Linked DNA regions of Homo sapiens: region 2 is linked to region 1. Evidence: fine-mapped expression QTL. Tissue or cell type: whole blood. Region 1 holds a variant in brackets; the other region holds the start of a gene. All regions are shown on one strand. Distances are from middle to middle.

Region 1 (8,109 bases):
TATTTATGAAGCACTGTTGGAGAGAATCTGTGCTTCATGACCTGACACTGCTGAATGGTGCAATCCTCCCACGAATACCAGGGCTGGCCTATACCTGTGGTTTTGCCCCCAAATGCCAAGGGCAAAGGTTACACTCAGCCAGTCTTAAATGCCTGGCTAAAAAAGGTCTGAAACACAAAAGCAAATATGGGTAGGTTTTCGTTTATTCTTTTTCCAAAATGTCAAAAGCAGATATTTATTTATTTATTTGAGATAGGGTTTACTTTGTCACCCAGGCTGGAGTGCAGTGGGAGGATCATAGCTCACTGCAGCCTTGAACTCTTGGGCTCAAGTGATCCCCCGACCTCTACCTCCCCAGTAGCTAGGACTACAGATGTGCGCCACCACACCCAGTTATGACCAGGCCCATTCCAGAAATTATAAGAACACTCCAAGGTGCTAGAGATGGGGGTCTCACTATGTTGCCTAGATGGTCTCGAGCTCCTGGCCTCAGTGGATCCTCCTAAAGTGCTGGGATTACAGGCATGAGCCACTGTGCTTAGCCTTAATTTTTTTTTTTTTTTTTTGAGACAGAGTCTTGCTCTGTCACCCAGGCTGCAGTGCAGTGGCATAATCTCGGCTCACTGCAACCTCCACCTTCCAGGTTCAAGTGATTCTCCTGCCTCAGCCTACAGAGTAGCTGAGATTACAGGTGCACACTACTATGCCCGGCTAATTTTTGTATTTTAATAGAGACGGGTTTTCTCTGTTTTGGCCAGGGTGGTCACGAACTCCTGGCCTCAAGAAATCTACTTGCCTCGGCCTCCCAAAGTGCTGTGATTATAAGCATGAGCACCATGCCCAGGCTGGCCTTAATTTTTTAAATAAGAGGTTGTATACATATTTTACCTACTAGATTTAAATAGAAATTTTCTGTATATGATTAAGACTAGTTATATATTAAGATAGAATTAACCATGTAAGCCTTCTGATATTGTAGCAACAAACACAGATGAAATGAAAGGACGCAATGTATACATTCTCATGAAATGGTCACTTGAGTTCCATTGAAATCTGTGTTCATAGCCTAAATGTAGTAAATTGAGATAATATGGATAATCTCAGTCAAAACTCATTTATCTCATCATTATTTAACTATATCAGGTCCAAGTTATGCCATGTGACTCAGCTCTTCATTTTCTAAAACTTTAAAGTTTTAAATCCGTAGGAAGTTTCATCCATTTTTAAAATATGCTGTAAGAAGATGCTGGATTCAGACAGACCTGGGCTTGGTACTCAGTTCATCTTAAACAAGTTACTCAGCCTCTTTAAGCCTCTCTTTTCTAAAATGAGGACAGTGACACAGTGCTCATCTCATGGAGTTATTGTGAGGCTTAAAATAGGTCATATGTAAGGACTTAGAGCAATGCCTAAACATAATATGCATGCTCCAATATTGTCATTATCACTATGATTAATGGCACATGGTACCTAGTACACAGCACTCAATAAGTGTTAGTTCCTTTTCTCTCTAACAGAAGCTCTTGTTGCCATGGTTCTGCATTTCAAATCATTTGCCATATACATGTCTTACCACTAATTTATATTCTAAAGCCAAATCAGTTCAGGGTAAAGGAGTTACACTGAGACAGGAGTTTCAGGGACAATGCTAAAAACATCAACTTTGTTCTAAAAAATAGTTTTGATCATATTCTGTGAACAGACGAGAATTGTATGACTTAGCGGTGTCAGCTTTCTAGCATTATCTTCAAAACACAATTTTCCGTTTCACAGTGGATGCTTTCATAGTGATCCATAGGCCTGTATCCTCTGATGAGCCTAGAAAGCATCAGAATAATCCTCTTCAAGTCTCAAACACTGAAAGAAAAAGGGAGGGGACCAGCAGGTTCCCTGAGGATTATCTCTTTGGGGTAGAAAATCCTCTGAGCTTTTTGGAAGATGTGGAAGACGTATCTGATCCATGAGCTGGTTCAAGTGGTCCTATGGGGTAGGAAAGGGAACAGGGAACTAGGAAGACTGGTTAAATGAGGGCCTGGACATTCCCATGAATGAAGTGGCAGTGCTGGGTCATAGGTGATCAGGAAAGACAGAGTGCTATGGAAAATGTTGAGATACACAGATGTGCTGGGAAAGCATTCCAGGATGTTGAAACCCCGAGTGAGCCAAGGAAAAGCTAAATCCTAATCAAAGAGAAGTCCAAAAGAAAGCCCTGTCAATCTTGTGGAAAGAGATCAGAAATAGAAGTGAACTGAGGTGAAAAGTAAATAGAAGAGAGCATGGGGCATAGCCACAGAGCCTGGAGCATTGCATTGCATCTTCCCGGTTTCTCAATAGTGTGGGTCCTGCCTACTTGGCAGCCCTGTTGTAAACCATTGACTGATAATCGCCTCCAAATTTGCCTGTCTTAAGCTTCATTTCTCCTTCTATAAATTACTTGAGAAGTCCCCTGGGAACAGAATCAACAGCCATTTTGGTGGTGATGTTGGGACAGGGTTTCAGTCCCACGGGCCATACCCCAGGCTGCATAACTCCAGGGGATAGGGCCAGAAATTTTCTATAGACCTCTCTCTTAATTTTAATTTTGGAAACCCTGAAGCTGAGTTTACCTCAAACCCATCACAAGGGTAATTATCTCAAAGTACAGAAAAAATTAAAATGTTCATGTTGTTTCTTATTCCACTGTCATGTATATGAGACCATCAGTTTAGACTATACTATTGAGCTTTAGAAACATTATACCAGGTCTTGCAAAATGAGACGATATATTGGTTTCCAAGGTTTCTCTAGCGACTTGTGTCTCAGGCCCCAGACTCTAGCTAGGAACTAGCACACCAGATAGGAATCTCAGGAGAGAGGATTAAACGGACACTGGTTCTAAATAATACAGACTCAATACCGTTTCTTCTAGGTGAGGCTCTTAAACTTTCTCACTGACCCATGCATTGTGATTTCACAGCTGGGATGGCATTCTTGAGCCGAAGCTGATGTGAGATTCCGGATTTTGAACATCTTGGTGGGGAGACAGCCCCATCCTTCCTTCCAGGTTGCAGATTTGCTACAGTATCTCCAGACCCAAGTTGGCTCAGACTGGAATGGCAGGATCAGGTTTGAGTTCCTGCTGTTCCAGAGAAAACTTAGGAAGGCCTCATCTGACCTCTAACTAGATTTCAGAGCAGTCTGTTCCCTAAAGTGAAATTTGAGTGAAGAGCCAGTTTTGTAGGAAGGCTGCAAATGATCAGGCCCATTCCAGAAGTTATAAGAACACTCCAAGCTGAGGGTGTGAGGAACACCACCCCACTGAATACCCTAAAAGGAGAACAGAGATTGGATATCAAGGCTCCAATATGGCCCTGGGATTGATGGCCTACTGTTTTTGAACTGGGGTCAGGATCACATCTTTATCTGTATGTATGGGGAGGTGATTCCTACTGTCAGTCATCAAGTGAAGATGTGGATTTGTCCAACCAAAACACAAATCTGCAGATGTCTTGGCTTAGTTTTACGAGTTCCATGCTGGCTTCCAGGAGCCAACTGTTCCTCCTTTAGAGCTCTGACCCAAGGATGGACAGAAAAATCTTGTTTTCAGTTTAACCCTTCTGAAGACTCCAATGATGCTAAGAGAAAACAAGCGAGAAATGACCAAAGAGACTATA[C/T]AATGTAAGTATTTGCCTAATTCTTGCTTTCTCTTCTCCTCTCCATCTCAAAACCACTGCTCAAATTCCTCTGGATTCCTTCAACCACGTCTATTTGTTTCCCTACATCCAACCTGTCCCCCTCATGTCATCCTCCAGACCATATCTGCTCTTTGTTTAATATTTATCAATGCCCTTGAGGAACTGCCTTTCTAGATTCATCTTCAGCGTCGGCTCCACACGTTTCTTTCTGGCATTTCTGACTTTACTTTATGAGATCCAGAGAGTAAGCTTATAGCTTACGTTGAATTTGTCACAACTTTCATAATGTGGAGCATGCAGCACTGAGCCTATTTCCTTTGTCTACTGTGATAGCCTGGCCTTAACTCCCTGTGCAGGACCAGCCATTTAAAAGGTCATTAACAAAAGAAAGAAGACCCTTTTTCAATTTTTCTCCGGAAGCCTAGAAATTTTTTAAAAATATCCTTTCTGTTTTAAGAATATGCAGTGTCTTAGGAGAATTAAATGGACCCAAGAAATTGAAATTTCTTAAAGGTAGGCTAAAGGGAGACTGCTTATCATTTTTACCACTAAGTGAAAAATGTACTAATTTCATTTTTCTAGTGAGTAGAAAATGTCTATAAAACTCATGTTTTTCTGAAAGTGTTTTTTCTCTGACAAGATGACTGTGCTCCACTGGGCTGGAAAGCATTATTAAGTATAACAATAAACTATACAAAGAAAAAAATCACAAAAATTTTCAGATCAGGAAATGCTTAAATATTTCCAAAAATGTTTATCAGTAAATGTTATTCTAGAATTAAAACATTTCCTGTTGATGATCATGCCATGGAGAAAATCATGTAATGCCAGTTATGAGATCTTATATATTTAGAAAAAAAACCCCATTATAAGTAACATGAGATAAATAGGAATCATACTTTTAAAAAAGATTATTATTCACATAAAAATTTAAACCTTAAGCAATATAAAAATACAAGAGAGAAATAAATTAGTCAATATGTCAACTCTCAGAAATGACCACTCAATATTTAAGTATTTCCAAGCAGGTCTCAGTGTAAATAGACACACTTGTGTTCAATTTTACATATATAGTTTTTATGACTTGTATTTATATCAGCAACACATCCTGGACAGCTTTCCCTGTCAAAAAGTCTGGATCTGCAGTATTAGTGTTCACAATTGTGCATTTGTGTCACATGTATCCATTGAGATGTTCCAAGCTTCAGCAGCACCTCTCCAAACAAGTCCTCATGTGACAACCTAAAAAAAGCAGGAAGGGAAGGAGGGGGCAGCCGAGTGGGTGGGTGGGCGTGTTTTTTCAGAAGCCTCCTAGTGGACTTCCTTGTATGAAATTGAAGCACGATATTTCCCTGACCCCTTCGTGGGACTCACAAAGGAGCTGTCTTGTTTACTGAGCCCGCAGCTCTCAATTCCTTGAGGGAGGGAGCCCGTGAGCAAATGAGGCAGGAACTGGAGTGCACGGGTGCTGGAACTAGCCAGCTGCTTCAGTGCCAGCAGGAGTGAACTCCACTCACTTGGATCTGCTGTGCTCCACTCCTCACGGGAGGGAGCACATAGGTGAGCAGGTGCAGGAGCCAGGGCGAGTGCTTTTGGGTACTGGCAGGAGTGAACTCTGTGCAGGCCCTGCGGCAGCATTTGCAGGGGGGTGTGCCTGCAACCCCTGAAACCCCAGAGGGAGTGCTACAGTGCCCTTTTAGCTTTGCCTGCTGTACACAGACAACTTGAGTGCTAACAGCTCAGCAGGCCCTCTGCCTTTTCATATGAGGCGGCTGCCTTCTGCCAGAGAGGGCAAAGGGCAAGTGTGACAGCTTTTTTGTATCCTCACTCATGGCTCCCGAGCTCTTGCCCAGCATCCAGGAGAAATGAGGTCTCATGAATGAATTGAAGGATGGTAAATGCATGGATTTTATTGCCAATGAAAGTGATAATCACCAAGAGAGGCAGCTGAAAAGGGGACAAGATGGGAAGGTAATCTTCCCCTGAAGTCTGGCAGTCTCCAGCCAGATTCTTCTCCAAAGTTACGCCACCAAGCTGTCCTTCTGAAGTCAGGCTGCTTCTCTCTGATGTCCAGCTATAGTCCCTGACATTCAGCTGCTTCTCCTCTCTCTGCCAGCTGAGGCTGATGTTTTTATAGGCACAGGATGGGGGGCAGGGTGGGGCCATGGGTGCTTTGGAAAAGGCAAGATTCGAGCAGGGAAACAGCGGTGTAAGTTCTAACTTTGGGCCGCAGTCTCAGGCTTTTCAGCTTGAGATGGGGCTTCACCAGGGACCTGCCCTTCTTCGCCTAGAATTTCTCTGTTCCCATCCCCATCAAAATGTCTATGGCTAGGACCAGTCACATGGCCACCCCAGACACTATCAAGTGAGAATGAATTGATATGACTGTCTCGGACAAGCCAGGCTTGCTCCTCTGTGATCATCACAAAAACCAGAGTCCTGTGGGCAATAAAATAAGCTTAAATTCATGAATTCACGACAATACCAACAAAGAAACTCAATTAGTGGCCATTGCAGACTGCTAATGACCAACCCATTATTATAAAATTATTATAAAAACTGGCAAATTAAGAGACAGAATCAAATGCTTATCATGCTTTTCCTATGTCATTGGGAAATCAAATCATTGAGGAAGAAAGTTTCCCTTTATAAAAGCATGTCAGCTAATAAATGAAGATGAAATGATAGGGTTAGGATATCACCATTTCCAGTATCTGTTGAGTTAATGGATCTAGGTATTGAGCACTAACAACTACCAATATCACAGAAAGAAACAACCCAACATTAAATGCCTCCTGGTGGAAGGACACAATACCATCTAGGAAGTCATCTTGCCAAAAATATAGAACCTCAATCTAACCGAGACTCTAGATCCAATCACACCAATTTGAGGGAAATATGAAGGGTACATTCAAGGAAATCAGATTTTGGAAAACTCAGTGATTGGCACAATTGTAGGCTACAGTTTGTTTACACCTCTACTTGTTTTTTTTTCTTTTTTTAATTTATTTTTTATTATTATACTTTAAGTTTTGGGGTACATGTGCACAACATGCAGGTTTGTTACATAGGTATACATGTGCCACATTGGTTTTCTGCACCCATAAACTCGTCATTTACATTAGGTAGTTCTCCTAATGCTATCCCTCTCCCAGACCCCCACCCCCAAACAGGCCCCAGTGTGTGATGTTCCCCTCCCTGTGTCCATGTGTTCTCGTTGTTCAGCTTCCACTTATGAGTGAGAACATGAGGTGTTTGGTTTTCTTTTCTTGTGTTACTTTGCTGAGAATGATGGTTTCCAGTTTCATCCATGTCCCTGTAAAGGACATGAACTCATCCTTTTTTATGGCTGCATAGTGTTCCATGTACACCTCTACTTGTTATAATTTATGATGTACAGAAAAACCTTTAGGCCAAACTTAAAATATGTAAGGAGGCAGCTTTAAGCTAAACTTGATTTAACAATTATAAATGTTTCTTATCAGATTGAAGGTCTGAGTTAATGTTAATGCTGGCTGGCTTTTCCTGAATTCCAAAAGGGAGGAGGGTATAATGAGGCACGTCTGACCCCTCCTTCCCATCATGGCCTGAACTAGGTTTTCAGGTTAACTTGGAGTGCACGTGGCCAAGAGGAGGGGTCCGTTCAGATGGTTGAGGGGCTTAGAATTTTATTTTTGATTTACAACTATTAAGCATGAACCTAGCTTTCATCGTATGTAGCCACTTACTAAAGATTTCTTTGATCAAAAATGATTACAGACTATTAAATTTTATCAAACATTTTTCTCATCATGAATTAAAACATTTCTATTCCTTTGACCTATTATTATGGAAGAATATATTAATCAATTTCTTAACACTGAATCATATTTACATCACTGAAAGGAACCCAATCTTGGTAATTGTACAATATATTTTTAAAAGTATTGCTAGTTTCTATTTGTTACATTTTATTTAGTATATTTTTCCTACTTAATATGCAAACAACGTGCCATCTTTATCACATTTTGTTATCGGTTGGCTTTGCAAAAATCTTAAAATATTAAGGAAACACTAAGTCTAATCCTCCATTTTTAAAGGTAAAGATTTTTGAGGCCCCTAGAATATTAAGTGACTTACTAAGTTCACATTATTTTATTTTTTTTTATTCCCTGCAAGTGTTGCACATCTACTCTTTTTTTTTTTTTTTTTTTTTGAGTTGTGGGGTCTGGAAAACTCTATCACCCTGGCTGGAATACAGTGGCACAATTAAGGCTTTGTGGCCTTGAACTCCTGGGGCTCAAGTGATCCTCCCACCTCAGCCTCTCTAGTAGCTGAGACTGCAGAAATGAGCCACCACATCCCACTAAGTTCTTGTGTGTGTGTGTGTGTGTGTGTGTGTGTGTGTGTGTGTGTGTGTGTGTGTGTAGAGACAGGATCTCACTGTGTTGCCCAG
Region 2 (8,109 bases), 240 kb after region 1:
ACCACCATGCCCGGCTATGTAAAATTCTTATACTATTGCCCCAGTACATATAAAACTCTAGTAATTATTTGCTCCTTTTATTAAACATATACATCTATACTTACGCAAAGAAAAAATGAAAGGAATATATCAATATATTTTCAAGATCCTGAATTCTAACAAAACTAATTCTGAGTCAGTCAGGAAATCTGAACACTGATTGCATATTAGAAGGTATAAAAATTATTTTATAAGGTATGGCGGTGTTTTTTTAAAAGTCCTTGTATCATAGTGAATAAAATATAACTAAGACCTGCTTTAAAATAGTTTGGTGGGAGGCATTTATGGAGGAATTTTTTTCAAACTTTTTTTTTTTTTGAGACAGACTCTCGCTCTGTTGCCAGGCTGGAGTGCAGTGGCACGATCTCGGCTCACTGTAACCTCCACCTCCTGGGTTCAAGCAATTCTCCTGCCTCAGCTTCCCAAATAGCTGGGACTACAGGCGCACGCCACACCCTGCTAATTTTTTTTTTTTTTTTTGTATTTTAGTAGAGACAGGGTTTCACCATGTTGCCCAGGCTGGTCTCGAACTCCTGAGCTCAGGCAATCCACCTGCCTCAGCCTCCCAAAGTGGTAGGATTACAGGCATGAACCACCGTGCCCGGCCTCAAACATTTTTAATGTTAGCAGAGGTAAATTTCCTCTGGGTAATGGAATTATTATTAGCTTTTATTGTCTTTATATTTTTCTATCTTTCAATTTTTGTATAGTGATTTGAAGTTGTTTTTAAAATGAGAAAAAAAAATTTCAAAACGTTTTAAGAAAATCCTTACCAATACTCCATCCACAGATGAAACTTTCTCCCAAGTTAACCAAGCTCTCTCTCTGACATGATCTGGTATCTTTAATTTCTGACATAATGCAGTAAAATCAGGTTCTTCTGTTTCTTCAAACTCAAGCCTACCAAATGAAAATAATCATATAATTGGCATATACTTATAAATCAAATTGATTCAGTACATACTTGTTTCAATAGTTTGCACATAACACTACTGTGAAAAAGAACATTATTAAATACTTTAAGATCTTATTTTATCTTAGAAAAACATTACACTTCAAATTTAAACATATGATTATCTTTTTCATGGTCATTCCAAAATAAGGATACCACACAGTGAAAAATATTTGCTTGCATGGTAAGTCAAATATACTTCAAAGCAGCAAAACACTTCTGTGAAGGAAAGTAAATGTAATAGCTAAAGCTGTTTGGGAAAATAGGATAAAGATAACAACAAAAAGATAAAAACCCATAGATAATATTATACAATTCAACGCCAGTGACTTTGTTAAACTGTAGTCTTCTCTTATCAATGTTTCATATATCTCTCTACCTACTAGCACATCTTACATGATGCGACTGCTTATTTTTGTCCTTTCCCCTTAACAAAGACAAGCATTTAATAAATTCTTGTTGGCTAATTCATTTTCATTCATCTAATTTCTATGTGTTATCTACTAATAAGAATAGTATGAAGAATAATTAATAATTTTTGAGTATTTACTATGATCCTGTAGAAAGTACCTTAAACATATGGTTTCACTGAATCCCGACATCAGCCCTTTTAGATAAGTATTCTCATCTGTAAAAGTAGACATTTACAGATGTCTGTCAAATTGGAGAAGTTAAAGAACTTACCTGAGGTCTCAGCCGGTAAGAGGTAAACCACTATGTGAGCCCAACAGTCTAACTCTATAATCCATGCCCTTGACCACTATTCTAGACTGCCAATTCCTCCTTCAAAACATAATTAGTTTTTGTTTTTTTTTCTTGTTTTGAAATAGGGTTTCACTCTGTCATCCAGGCTGGGGTGCAGTGGTGAAATCATGGCTCACTGCAGTCTCAAACTCCTGGGCTCAAGGGATCCTCCCACCTCAGCCTCCTGAGTAGATGAGCCTACAGGTGTGCCACAGCCACTGGCTAATTTTTTAAAATTTGTTTTAGAGACAGGGTCTTGTTTTGTTGCCCAGGCTCCTCTCAAACTCCTGGCCTCAAGCAATCTTCCCATCTTGGCCTCCCAAAGTGCTGGCATTACAGGCGTGAGCCAACATGCCTGGTCAGCTTTTTTGTTTTTTTAAAGACTGGGGTCTTGCTTTGTTGCCCAGGCTGGCCTCCAACTCCCAAGCTCATGTGATCCTCCTGCCTCAGCCTCCTGAGTAGCATGGACTACAGGTACGCGCCATCACACCCAGCTCGAAACATGATTAACCTTTGATTATTTCAACAATGAATGTGGTATGCTGTTCCTAGTGACAGTTTCCCTTCCAGCTACATTACTTAGGCCAGAGATAAGGCAACAGAAATAAGATCTAAACTCTCAAATCAGGAATGGAATCTGTCACTGGAGGTGCAGTTGGACTGAGCCTTGATTCCATCTCCAGGCAAGATGCTCAGTATCAGACTGCACGGCAGCGGTTCTACCCTTGCTGGTTAATTTATAGAGTTCAACTGTCTATGTTAATGAAACCCTTTGTGGGTATGGATAATCAAGAACAGACTGTATCTTGTATGGTTTTGACTTATAAGAGAATTTTTTATAGTTCCATTACTTAAAATATATAAAATGAGTTAAAAAATGAAAGAAACAGTCCTCTTTTTTCCAAGCAGTGGCCACAACGTCAATATTCCTGGTTACCCTACATTAGAGTATGCTTCCAAAGCTGTGTGCATAACATGGAATTCTTTAGAGTAGCCATTACTGCATTTTCCCAAGGGAAATTTGCAAGAATTGGATACATCAGAATTTAATCAGAAACTAAAGCCATGTCTTTTCCCAGAACATGCCCCAGACGTGGTTTTTAATTTTTTGTTGTTGTTATTTTGGTTTTTTAACGAATATGGTTTTTAACTGACCTATAAGACAGTCCATTTAAATATATAAATTTTTAATAGCCTTCCAGGGGCCATTTCCTAAATCCCACTTCAATCTTTTCTGCCGTGAATTGTTAGTGTATACCGAGTGGAAAGAAATGGGTGAGGGTGAAAGGATTTGGTGATAGACAAGAATGGGAGAGAAAATAGTGAAAAACAGAAACAAGTCCCATTCCCTCTGCAATGAACTTGTCTCAAAGTAGAACCAGTGCTGACAATAATGACAATTACACTCTTTCAATCATAGCTATTTAACCATAAAGTAGAAAAATCAAGAAAAGTAAGATGTTGTAATACAATAAATACTTCCCTTCAAGATCTAGTGCATTCGTATGGACTTGCTTAAATTTAGATTCCACTTAATAAGGGAAAACGAAAATTTCCATTTGCGCACAGAACCACTAATTTTGTGCCAAAAACAAAGGCAAAAAGAGGGGACACCAAGATCCTTGCTGGTTCAAAGTCAAAAGGCAAAATGGAAGAAATAATGAGACAAGCCGAAGCCGACTAACACGCAAGAAGAGTTCATCAAACAGGAAAAAAAAAAGTTTAGAAACTTTCAAGCACTTCTGGTAAATGTCTCATGAAAGTTTTGCCCATGTTTCAGTTCCTCTAAAGAGTTACGCTCCATCAATCACTACAGATGGCTTTGAGTCCCCAAGGCCTCGATGCATTATTGTTCTAAGGAAACGCCGCAAAGCTCCTGAGCCGAGTATCCTGTGGGCAATGGACACTCAGGACCCTGCGCTTCTTGTCCAAGGCTTTCTGGTCGGCCTCTCCCACAAATGGACTTCAGATGCAGTGCACGCCCGGAAGAAAATACTTCCCAACTGTTGCATCGCGTGAACCAAAACAGAAAGTCAGACGACCACCGGAGTACTCCAATTCTCCGGTGAAAAACTCTCCCACAGACACCATTTTTGTATTTTTATTTTTCATTTTTTGCGTCTGATGGACGCTCGCAACGACCCTCTGCCTCCGAGCCTCACAAGAGGGAACTGCACCTGTCACTTCGCTCAGGACCCTAGCCCCACCCGCCCGACACCTGTCAAGTTGAAGCCGAGACCCCTCGCCCAAGAACCCAGAATCCTGTCACCATTCTGCAGACGCTCCGCCGTGGCGGGGGGCAGGGAGGGCGCCTCCTCCCGCCGGGACCCGGCCCCTGGCGAGGACGGATCCCCGCCGAGCCGCCTTGGCGCCCGCCCTACGCACACCCGGGGCGCCCTTCCCGCGTGAGGCGACGGCGGCTCTGCTCGCTCACCTGACGAGAGGCAGGTCCTCCGGGCCGCTGTCCTGCTCTGGGTCCTCCTCAGGAGGGGGCGGCGGCGGCGGTGCCGGGGGTTCCGCGGCGGCAGCGGCGGCGGTGGCGGCCGTTTTTCGGGGGGTTTTGGGCGGCATGACGCCTTTCCGCGGCGGGAGCCAGCGAGCTGTGGAGGAGCGCCGGGGAGGACGACGCGCGCGCACGTCGGGGCACGCCCCGTCCTCTCCCGACTCCCGTTACAAAAATAATTTCAACGTCCCCTGAGAAAAACCGGACGCGCCCTCCCCCGCCCGGCAACTGAGCGCCGCGTCCAACCGCGGGAAAACGTCACTTCCGCCCGCGGCGTCACGTCCGCGAGGCTCCCGGGCCCGCCGGCGTCTGTGGGGAACTGGGGCGCTGGTCGGTGCGCGGGCTGGGACGCTAAGTCATGAGGAATTAAACTGGGAAACCTGGCGTGGGTCCAGGCGCCTTCCAGGAGGCATCCGGCGCGGCCCGGACGTGCTTCTACCCAGAACCACCCCCTCCAGGCCGGGGTGCACTTAACGGGGCTATACAAAGAGTCTGGTGGGTGACTGTGGGCCTCATCCCTATCCCGGGGTCTGATAGGGAAGACTCTCGGGCCCCGCAGGGAATATCTGGCTAGTGCACCCTCGGCGGGAGCGCCACTCTCCCTCCTTGGGCGGCGCCCCCCACCTCTCATCCCGCCCAATCCGTTTTGCAAAGTCGGCCAAAACAAAAACAAACTTGGAGCGCTGATAGGTGCGGAACTTTACCAGTCACTTAGAAGATAGAAAATGTTAGACACTTGCTGGCCTTTTGGGATCACTGGTTAGGGAAAGGAAGGGAGGGAGCTGTGGGGAATGAACGGATAGTAGTGTAATAAAGGATTGTAGTGGTGTAAGAACGGGAAGCACCGTGGAAACGTCTGAGGAAGATTTTCAGGGGAGCAGTAGCTGCTGAATAGAAGTCTGTCAGGCAGGCCTGACATTTACTATGTACCAGGAACTGTGCTGGCCACCTTACATAATTGTCTTATTTAATCCCCAGAAACAGCCTTTTTTTTCTTTTTCTTTCTTTCTTTTCTTTTTTTTTTTTTTTTTTTACTTTAAGTTCCGGGATACAAGTGCAGAACGTGTAGGTTTGTTACATAGGCATACGTATGCCATGGAGGTTTGCTGCACCTATCAACCCGTCATCTAGGTTTTAAGCCTTGCATGCATTAGCTAAGAAACAACGCTTTCCAATGGGTAGTATTAGCTAGTCTACGTTGCAGATGAGGAAACAGGCTCAGAGGAGTTAATTTGTCCAATACCAGGGCCGATGGGTAGCAGAGAATTTGAACTCAATTCTATTTGATTCCACTTGTCCATTATATTATGTTTGATGAAGAAAACAGTGACAGAGAAGGAGCATGTGCAAAGGCACAAAGACATCAGAAAAGAGCTTGCTGGGACTACCACCATCAAACATTGGCTTAAAGCTGTTATCACTTCTGTGTCTCGGTATTTGTACCAATAGATTATCTAGTTTGAATACATTTTTTTTTCTCTTTGGCAGACACTGTTATTGCCCATCTGAACTCGTCAACTGAGAAGGAAAGAGATGGTTTATGCTGTGAATAAAATACAGTTGTGCTGTGATGTAAATCCCCTCATCCTGGAGCAGCTGAGCAAGGTCTAAGGCAGGAAGAACCTTCAAGCAGGTCATGGCTGTAAGCCTCCTGAGTTTATCCCAGCAAGTTGTATAAGGGATTATCTTTTTATCTGCATATTATGACATATGTGAGGATGTGTAAAGGTTTGGCAAGCACTGGCCTACTCAACAGCCAGTCCTACCTAACTTCAGAAATCTTTCTTGTGGGCAAATGTCAGGAGATAGGGCCCAGGCCCAGGTCCAGCTACAAAGAATGAATACAATTAAAGTGCTACTTCCATTCACCTCACCCCAGATTAGTTTAGGCAAGAGCTCAGGATGCAGTTTTGACATTTGAAAGATAAGGAGTAGTCTGCTGGGAGCCTGATAAATTGAAACAGGGATGGCACAGTTCTAAATATTATTAAATAATAGTAATAATATTAAGTATTACTGAGGATGTGACACTTCTGATTGCTGCAGCCATTGTAACGTGAGGCAAGCCAACCTACAGAGAAGGTAGAAATGCTGATATTGGTGCAGGAGGAATTTCAAAAGAATCTGGATCCTCAGTGTTATAAATGAGCCTCTGATTTGGCCAGCCCTGGAGCTGACCTAAGCTGAGCTGAGGTTTTCACTTGTTTGCAACAGAAAGCATCATGACTGATAATGTTTCTCCTGTGCTTATCTTCAGGATAGAGACCAAATCTTGGGTATCATCATTGCCTTAGTACCTAGCACAGTGTTACACACACAGTAAATGCTTGCTTACTAAAAGTAGGGATGGCAGGAAAGTGAAGGAAAGTTCTAGGAACTGAAGTAAACTCTCTTCATACGTAGATATCACTTGCTTTATTTAAAACCAGTTTATCAACATCTAGATTACATTTATGTAATCTAGATTTATTTATTACCATATTACAATTATGATAAAGAGATTTCTCAATTTACAAAAGAATATATGTCTTGACCATGGATTAATTTAACTATGTTCACTAGTATGTAAAATATATTTTCCTGCAGCCATAAAAAGGAATGAGATCATGTCCTTTGCAGGAACATGGATGGAGCCAGAAGCCTTTATCCTCAGCAAACTAACGCAGGAACAGAAAACCAAACACTGCATGTTCTCACTTATAAGTGGGAGCTAAACAATGAGAACACATGGACATGAAGAGGGGAACAACACACACTGGGGGATTACTTGAGGGTGTAGGGTGAGAGGACAGAAGATCAAAAAACTACCTATCAGGTACTACACTTGTTACCTGGGTGGTGAAAAAATCTGTACACACCAAACCCCAGAGACACACAGTTTACCTATATAACAAACTTGCACATGTATCCCTAAACCTAAAATAATAGTTTGAAAAAAGTGTGGTGTATATATCATAATATATACACATAAATAGATACACACACACACACACACACACACACACACACACACATACACACATACATACCATAAAATAGACCCAGGAAGGGGAACAACACACACTGGGGCCTGTAGCGGGGAAGGGTGGGGAGAGGGAGAGCATCAGGAGAGCTAATGGATGCTGGGCTTAATACCATGGTGATGGGTTGATCTGTGCAGCACACCACCATAGCACACATTTACCTGTGTAACAAACCTGCACATCCTACACATATACCTGGGAGCTTAAAAGTTGAAGGAAAAAATAATAAAATATATTTTCATCCACACAACTCAGAAGCAATTGAGTTCACCATCAAAATCTTTAGTTTTCTGTTGCATTACCAAAGAAGTATTAGAATTTCGGCAGAGTCTAGACCAGGTACGGTGGCTCACGCCTGTAATCCCAGCAGTTTGGGAGGCCAAGGCGGGTGGATCACCTGAGGTCAGGAGTTTGAGACCAGGCTGGCAAACATGGTGAAACCACATCTCTACCAAAAATACGAAATTAGCTGAGTGTGGTGGCAGGTGCCTGTAATCCCAGCTACTCTGGAGGCTGAGGCAGGAGAATCACTTGAACCCAGGAGGCAGAGGTTGCAGTGAGCTGAGATCATGCCACTGCACTCCAGCCTAGGCGACAAGAGCAAGACCCCATCTCAAAAAATATATATATATATATATATATATATATATATATATATTTCAGCAGAGTCTTAAAAAAATTCCCCCTGAACTTCTTGAAATTCATGGATCTCTTCCAACCTGCTTGGTAATTTTAAGAAGATTGCTGTAAGACTCCTACAAAAAATATATGTATTTCTTAGATTTTCTATCTAGAGAGGGAACTCTCTTCAGTTTGAGACTCCTTCAGTGATATTAAAATTTGGGGAA

What was found. PIP is the estimated chance that this variant, and not a neighbour inherited with it, causes the effect.
Region 2: RB1-DT starts here. The variant in region 1 is fine-mapped to the expression of RB1-DT in whole blood (TOPMed, PIP above 0.99).

What each region holds. Positions count from the first base shown.
Region 1 is chr13:48,539,978-48,548,086 of GRCh38, reverse strand. The region is part of intron 1 of LOC124903174 (a long non-coding RNA gene); the gene reads right to left. Among named protein-coding and RNA genes, the nearest start is that of RCBTB2, 11 kb to the right of the region's middle. The variant C/T (reference allele first, on the strand shown) is at 3,654.
Region 2 is chr13:48,300,110-48,308,218 of GRCh38, reverse strand. RB1-DT (RB1 divergent transcript) reads left to right here and starts at 4,517. Exons shown (of 3, transcript NR_046414.2): 1 at 4,517-4,928; 2 at 5,727-5,880. It overlaps RB1 (RB transcriptional corepressor 1), which reads right to left and starts at 4,468. Exons shown (of 27, transcript NM_000321.3): 1 at 4,170-4,468; 2 at 813-939. The coding sequence starts at 4,306. RefSeq lists enhancers at 3,457-3,526, 3,767-3,816, 3,891-4,614, 4,615-5,340 and a silencer at 4,027-4,316.